Regions from separate parts of the Homo sapiens genome. Here region 1 is reported to be linked to region 2. Evidence: microRNA targets listed by miRTarBase, many of them from high-throughput screens and not tested one by one. Region 2 holds a microRNA gene; the other region holds the end of a gene's coding sequence.
What was found. Region 2 holds the annotated microRNA hsa-miR-581 (UCUUGUGUUCUCUAGAUCAGU, at 1,827-1,847, shown strand). A microRNA usually pairs through its seed, bases 2 to 8, with sites in the 3' UTR of a target mRNA and lowers its output. Matches are read on the target gene's strand: a 7mer-m8 pairs with bases 2 to 8, a 7mer-A1 pairs with bases 2 to 7 and ends in A, and an 8mer does both.

Region 1: the mRNA of KNDC1 is a reported target of hsa-miR-581. Seed matches in the 3' UTR shown: 7mer-A1 at 3,396-3,402 and 7mer-A1 at 2,505-2,511.

What each region holds. Positions count from the first base shown.
Region 1 is chr10:133,224,499-133,228,498 of GRCh38, reverse strand. It overlaps KNDC1 (kinase non-catalytic C-lobe domain containing 1), which reads right to left. Exons shown (of 30, transcript NM_152643.8): 30 at 2,087-3,840. The coding sequence ends at 3,609. Among named protein-coding and RNA genes, the nearest start is that of UTF1, 3.7 kb to the left of the region's middle. RefSeq lists an enhancer at 2,781-3,404.
Region 2 is chr5:53,949,163-53,953,410 of GRCh38, reverse strand. MIR581 (microRNA 581) reads left to right here and starts at 1,812; the gene lies at 1,812-1,907. The region is part of intron 4 of ARL15 (ARF like GTPase 15); the gene reads left to right.

The DNA of each region.
Region 1 (4,000 bases), not on the chromosome of region 2:
CCAGGAGTTTGAGACTGACCTGGGCAATATAGTGAGACCCCCATCTCTGCAAAAAAATAAAAAATAGCCGAGTGTAGTAGCAGGTGCCTGTAGTTCCAGCTACTTGGGAGGCTGAGGCGGGAGGATGTCCTTTTGCTCAGGAGGTTAAGCCTGCAGTGTACCGTGATGACCTGACTGCACTCCTGCCTGGGTGACAGGGCAAGACTCTGTCTTAAAAAGAAAAGGGGGGCGTGCAGGCGTGGTGGCTGTAATCCCAGCACTTTGGGAGGCTGAGGCAGGCGGATCACCTGAGGTCAGGAGTCTGAGACCAGCCTGGCCAACATGGTGAAACCCCATCTCTACTAAAAATACAAAAATTAGCGAGGCGTTGGATGTGCACCTGTAATCCCAGCTTCTAGGGAGGCTGAGGCAGGAGAATTGCTTGAACCTGGGAGGTGGATCTAAAAAAAAAAAAAAGGCTGGGCGCGTGGCTCAAGCCTGTTGACACCCAGCACTTTGGGGGGCCGAGGCGGGCGGATCACGAGGTCAGGAGATTGAGACCATCCTGGCTAACACAGTGAAACCCGTCTCTACTAAAAATACAAAAAATTAGCTGGGTGTCGTGGCATGTGTCTGTAGTCCCAGCTACTCAGGAGGCTGAGGCAGGAGAATCGCTTGAACCCAAGAGGTGGAGGTTGCAGTGAGCCAAGATCGCACCACTGCATTCCAGCCTAGGTGACGGAGTGAGACTCTGTCTCAAAAAAAAAAAAAAGATTTTTAATAACTGAGGGTTGGGGGTGCTGGGGGCATCTGATGGGTGGAGATCAGAGATGATGGTGCACAGGACGCCAGCGCAGACTGTCTAGCCCACAGTGGCACTGCAGTGCACAGCACAGCCTGCCTTGAACCCGTCTGGGACAGAGCCGGGGAGTGGATGGCGGCGTGGGGGACAGAGCCGGGGAGTGGATGGCGGCGTGGGGGACAGAGCCGGGGAGTGGATGGCGGCGTGGGGGACAGAGCCGGGGAGTGGATGGCGCCGAGAAGCGAGGCTCATGAGGTTGCTGGCTGTCAGCTCTCTAAGAGAAAAGTCCTGTGCTCAGCGGAGCTGAATTTATTGGAGCCACTGCAGTGAGGGGTCCGGCCTGCATGGCGTGGGGGCGAGGACGCACACATGACCAGGACCAGGGCCCCCTGTCTCGGGCAGCTCCTGTCCAGCACAATTGGACTCCACCATCTTGTCTTCTCGGCTTCTCCTGGGCCTCCCTCCAGGCGGATAACCGCACCGTTCATCACGGGAACTTCCCGAAAGACCCATCAGCTCTTTTCCCAAAAGCATCCACAGTTTACAACCCCAAAACCATTGGAAGCCCTGGCTGTGAGCCCCTCCCTGAGTGGTGTCCACCAGTCTTACCCTGTGACAACCGTGAGAGTGTCCTTTCCCGGGCCACAAGCCCCACCTGCAGGAGCTCCCCGTCCTGGCCTCCTGCTCCACTGTGGTCAGAGTTACGGCGAGCTTGCACCGTGATGACGGGGGACCCAGCTCTGTCTTGCCCACAGGGCTGCCAGGTGGGAACTGGCTGGGTTGGGCAGAGTTTAGCGCAGATTGACCCAAGAACAGCCGTGGGTCTGTGCAAATAGCCTGTAAGAACTGATGGACAGACGCCCGTCCTGATCTTGGATGAAGACACTGCACATCCAGCATGAGGGACGTCCTTTTTGTCAATGGAGGGCGAGCCTGGATGTGCGCACACAGGAGCGTGGTTACGGGAGTCCGTTCTTTTAGGCTGTTTGCAGTCACAACCAGAAGCAAGTGTTTCCTGCCCCAGCCGGTGCGTTTGCTTGTTCCCACGGCCTGGGAGTGCTGGCGGTAGCTTTCCTCCTGGCGGGGCCTGAGTTGTGACACACGTCTGGCAGGCCCGGGCCTTTCTCTGCGGCATCAGAGGGCGTCGCTGTGGACCGGCAGATTCGTTTTCAGTCCTGGGTTGAGCACATCTCGCACCTGGAGTCCTTGTGAGCACCTGTAAGGGGCCTTCGTGCGGCCATGAAGGAAAACGTGTCGACCTGCAGAGGTCACCGTGGGGACCCGCAGAGTGACCACACAGCAGCAGCTGGTAGAAAGGACTTTATTCAGAAATTGGTGCCAGGACGGGAGGGAGCCATGCGGACAGTCGCGCTGAAGCCTGAGCCCAGTGCTGCCCCGGGGTCAGTCCTGACCGCTGGAATGTTGATTTGCACTGAGCACTGTCTGTTAGATACAAAATCTGAAAATGCGGGCGTGGGTCAGCAAAACATAATCCATATAAAAGCCTAAAAAAAAGTGAACTGCATTTCGTGGCCAGGACGCCGACTTCCTCTCATGTTACATCGAAGCGGGGCCCGGATGTCTCCGGTGAATTTATGTGGGAAAACACATCTTGACATTAAAAATGCAGCGATTTGTCACAGGTCACAGTTTTCCTAGAAATGCCACTAGCTGGCTGCTCTAAAGAATGACTAATTCTAAAACTCAAAAGCACAACCCTGGGTCTTGTGATTGGCACCGTGAGAGCCCCACGGAGCTGGGGCCGTGCCCGGGGCTCTGGTCACCCAGCTGCAGAGGCCAATGTGGAGCTGACTGCGCGGGACTCCCATGGCCCTGGCCAAGGGGCTCCACACCAGCTGCCTGGGGTCCAAGAACCTGAGCAAGGGCAAGGGGCCGTGGAGGCAGCGCACTTCCTGTCTCTGGCGAAGCGTGAGTGTGTGGCGAGCTGTGGAGGCAGGGCTGCGGGCGCACATGCATGGCTGCTGGAGGCGGTGGGCAGTGGCGGTCCCTGGGGCATGAGATGGGTGGGGGCACTCTCAGGGACCCCCGCCACAGAGCCTCTGTCTTGGAGCTGCTCTGAGTGTCCTTTCCAGGAAGCAGGGCCTTTGCCCGGGCATGACCACCTCACCAAGGGCTGTTCTAAGCTGGGGGGCCCTGGGCCCTGGGGGAGCAGGCCCAGCCCAAGGTGCCTGCTCCAGCAGCAGGCCTTGGGCACCTGGGGGTCTGGGCTGGGGAGGAGGGGCACTGGGCAGGGAAGGGGAGAGCGGTTCTGGGTCTGGGTTGTGGGGGGTGAACCCAGGCAGGGTCTCGGACCGGAGGTCTCGGAGTCCCTGGGAGCTGCAGTTGGCCACTCAGAGGTCAGCTTTGGCCCTTCGTTGCTCAGCCAACCCAGGCTGGCTCAGAAACCTGCTCAGGGAGGAGCTACTCTGAAGTTTGTTGAGTTGGCGGTGGAGGCTGTTGCTGTTTTGTGGGGGAGTCACTGAGAGCTGGGTAAGAGCCACTTATCTGTGTGTGAGAGGCGCAGACAGGCACAAAACTCCTGGGAAGCTGTCTTTCATTTTCATTTTTAAATTTAACTTTTTAATTCTAGCAGAAACACGCAAACCTCCAAGACTCTTGTGCCCGTCCTGGCTCCGTCTGCTGGGAGGAGACCAGCTCTGCCTGTCCCCATGGGGTCCCCTGAGCCTCCACCTCCTGGTCCAGCTCCCCAGGGTTCGGGGGCGGAGGGGCCTTGATAACGGCCGGGCCTGAGACGCGGCTCCCACCTCCCAGCCCGCCCCCCACAGTCGGATTCGGATCTGGAATTCCACACCAGGCCCGAGCTCGGCTACTGGAATGTAGCCTTCATCCTCCGTAGCTTGTCCTGAATCTTCCGTGAGTGCTTCTCGCTGGAGACCTGGTGGAAGTTGGCCCTGCTATCTGCGGCGAGTGTGGAAATGTCGGCACCGCTGAAGCGGGCAATCCTCTGCTTGAGGTACGACTGGAGCTTGGGGTCGGGGCTGAAGGTGTAAGGGTTCTCCTGGAACGCGTGCACCTGGCTCACCACCTTTGCGATGTTCCTTCCGTTGAGGAAAGAAGAGACGTTAGTTTGCACAGGGCAGGGGCGCGGCTTCCGTGGGGAGGGAGTCCCCCCGCGTTCTTAGGAATCATTTGGACTAAATCTTTTCACCGTGTAAATTCTGAAGGGTGGGTTGTCTGTATTTATTGGCGAGGTGGAAA
Region 2 (4,248 bases):
ATTTATAGAAAATTTAAATATAATACATATTAAGATTCTCTGAGCTCCCTACTAAATAACAATAACCCCTCACATTTGCATAGTGCTTTATACAAGACACGTATATTATCCTCCTCAATTCTTCAGAGGTAGGTAGAATCTCATTTATTTTATGGATAAGAAACTGAGACTCAGAAAGGTTAAGTAAGTTCCACAAGATCATGGAGCCTAGTAATTTGCAAAATAAGGCCTCCAATCAAATCCTAGTTTTCTTTCTATACCCCAGCTGCAGCTTTTAGTAATGGTCTAGTTCAGCATACATATAAATATTTATAAACATTGTGTCATTGTTCTGAATGAGTATATCTTACTATTTTGACTGTTTTATGACAGTGGAGCTGCGTAGTAAAGTGAACATTTGCAGAAGTTTAATCTACAGCCATTTTATATTCCCTCTCCCTCTGCTTTGAGATTTTATCCTTTGCTAGCAACAACATTCTTCTGTAACAACAAATAAAGCAAGCATCTTCCTATTTGCCTTCAAATAAAACAGGTTTAGGGATTATCTGCTCTTTTCACATACTTAAACACACCTTGAGTTTCTTTTTATAGACTTTCCTTTCTCCTGACACTGTGAAATCCCAGTGCTGTTTCTTATTTGAATGTTTTATCATCTGACACCTAATAATAAAAAGTCATTGGCACAATAACAGAGTTTCATCTTTCTTAAAGTTTAAAAATGTTTAGAAATTATTTCATTTCTTAAATAAAAATTGCAGTAGAATTAAGTATTTCCCTAGAGAGATAAAGATTGAAATTTGAAAGTAAATTGCTACTAACTTTGAGCCAATTAAAAAACTTTCATGGAAATGATTTTTTTCACATTCATTTTTTTTAATGTAGTGCTAAAACCAAGGAGTATCATATAAAACAGGCCCAAGGCACGTTTTGTACCTAAGCTAAAAATTACTTTTGTGGCCTTTGACATATCAAGGAACTTTGCTATTATAATGCAAGCATAAGATGAAATTTATTCAACCTTTTGAAAGTTTAAACATAAAAAGTTTAACATAAGAAACTAAAAAGTTTAAACATAAAAAACAGTTATTGTCTGTGCAAGGACTCAAATTCTTTCACTCTCTTCTTTTTTGTTTGTTTGTTTTTATTTTTGAGACAGAGTCTCACTCTGTTGCCCAGGCTGAAGTGCAGTGGCGTGATCTCAACTCACTCCAACCTCTGCCTCCCGGGTTCAAGCAATTCTCTGCCTTAGCCTCCCGAGTAGCTGGGATTACAGGCACCCACCACCATGCCTGGCTATTTTTTTTATTTTTAGTAGAGACAGGGTTTCACCATCTTGGCCAGGCTGGTCTTGAACTGACCTCATGATCCACCCTCCTCGGCCTCCCAAAGTGCTGGGATTACAGGCGCGAGCCACCACGCCCAGCTACTCTCCTCTTTCACACACAATTTCCAAAATCACAGCACAGATTGTCCAGAAAACATTTGTACTAATAGTTTTGTTTATGGAATTTGAGTTATTCCCCAAAGCACAAAATGTAAAAAAAAAAAAAAAAAAAAAAAAAATTCTTTTATGTAAAGTCTAAGAGAACAGTAAAAATATATAATGTGGTAGCTGGTAAGGAAGAAACTGGTTATAATTTTAAAGCATAAAGCATAATGCTTGAAAAAGATTCATGGAAAAACTATAATTTTATCTAGTTAATATATTTACAAAGCAATATATTTATTTACTGATATTTTTAGTGGTCATCATATCGAAAATATATAGGGAAGGAGTATATAGGGAAGGAGTAAGTAAGGTTTTCCAAAAAGTTATGTGAAGGTATTCTTGTGTTCTCTAGATCAGTGCTTTTAGAAAATTTGTGTGATCTAAAGAACACAAAGAATACCTACACAGAACCACCTGCAGACTGGTGCCAGTCCACAAAATATCTGTTTGAGTATGCAAGAAGATAAATACAGAAATTGAGAGTAAACATTTAGGAAATTTATAGCAATCTGACATCTCTGCAACATCCAAAGTATATGATTTTTGTATTCTACAAAAGCTTAGCTCAGATCTATGATGGGTTAGAAAACAAATACTCAAAACAAACCAGCTCCTTCACCACAGATGGTATTTGAAGTTCTGATCAAGCTCATGGTCTGCAAACCTTTTCTCTAAAGGGTCAGATTGTAAATATAGGCTTTGTAGGCCATACTCAAAGTCCCTGCTACTCAGCTCTCCCATACCCAGCTGCAATAGACAATATATAAACAAATGAATCTTGCTGTGTTTCAGTGAAACTTTATGGACATTGAAATTTGTATTTCATCTAATTTTTATGTTCTTAATATGCTAATATTGTTTTGATTTTTTTCCCCCAACCATTTAAAACTGTGAAAACCATTCTTGGCTCTTGCAGGCCATATGAAAACAGGGAGTGGGCTGGATTTGGCCCTCAGGCCAAGTTTGCTGACCCCAAGCTAGATCAGCAGTCCAGCCATCGTCAGGAACAGATGCTGTTATTTCTTAGTCTCAGTGTTCCCGTCTGTCTCGGGATTTTAATTGCCACTTACTTTCACTCTGCAGTTTGGGTTATTATTCAAGAAATACCTTAGAGCACTCATAATGCTTAGAACATTATGTTTAATAAAATCCAGAAGGAAAATGTTCCAAGTATCTCACTGTGGGAATACATTTTAGGATTTACTATGACCTACTGGTTTACATGAACTTTGCTGAGAAAAAAAAAAGCATGGAGAAGATTGGGATGGAAGATCTCTTTATTGTGTGTATAAAAGTAGTAATAGGCTATTTTAATTTGTGGCCTGGAATGGGTAGTGATAGAGCATGAGTTGAAATCTTGCTTCACGATTACCCTCAAATGGAGAAGTAATCTGTTTCAAATGGTAATCAAATGAAAAAAAGCTGTGAGTAGATTGTGTTAGCTTAGCCACCAAAATAGAGAATTTCTCAGATTCCCCCTCTGTCTCCAGTCCTTATTTTCTCCTACTGTTAACAGAAATTCAAACCCCAGCTGCTCCCATAGTTAACCAGCCGTCATGACATCGTCGTCTTTCTGTTCTTAGCAATTTCCATCTGGCTTAGTAGAAGTGGTTCCTCACTACCTTGAGCATAGTCGTTTTTTTTTTTTTAATTTTTGTAGAAACGAGGTTTTACTGTGTTGCCCTGGCTGGTCCTGAACTCCTGGCCTCAAGCATTTCTCTCACCTCAGCCTCTCAGAGTGCTGGGATTACAGGCATGAGCCACCATGCCCAGGCCGCCACTTTAAACACTTGAATACTACATACTTTCACTACTTGATTGATCTTGCACATAATCATCAAATTACAACATTCATGTTTATGGTTTTACTTATTTGTTTTTCACATTTATGTAGTGCCTTTTTTTCTGCATCGCTTAACATTTGCCAACAAATATCTGCACGTGAACTAAGCAAGTCATTCTGTTAGCACAATGACCTTGAGCAAAGGCACTTTCCTTCTTCATATGCATTTGTTAGTCTTTAGTCCTAAGTTTTTGCTTTTGTTTAGTTTGTTTTTTCACTCTTCACATACGAGCAGTCTTTTGGAAAGAGTTACTTATAGTATTTCTAACTTGGAGAAACCTTTCATCAAGTTGAAAAAGTTCAGTGTTCTGAGCGATTATGATAGAATCTCCTGTCAGAATATATGTTCCCTTTTTGTTCTACTTCAAAATATAAGAGGTTAACTCTTGTAGGCATGCCACAGTATTTTTGGATTAAGTCAGGCCCTCCAAAAAACTTAGAACTATGAAACAAACCAGTGTTTAAGAAGACACATCCTTGGAATATGAGCAAGCCCATTAATTCTGTATTTTGAGTAAAAGGTGTTTGATCTTATGCATGCTGTCTTCCATGTCATCATTTCAAATGATGAAGAAACTACATCTCCTAATATTTGAGAACAAACTGCAAAAGTTGGTCCCTTGATTGTATTATAAATCCATAAAAAGACCCATTTTTAAACACAGCAACTTTTTAGGCAACTTCCTGTTTTTCACTTGAAATAGAAGTCAAACTGTTATAAGTGCTGTCTTCATTATTCATATTTAATTACACAGTGGCTTATTCTTCATTATTTTAGTGTATTTGTGAATACTCTAGCTATTGAGTAGAATACTGGTTACAAAGCTAGTCTATAAACAACATGAAATGAAGGGTGCTGACTCAGAAATTTAGAGTCCTCCACAATACCATATCCAATGGGAATTAAATCATTGTA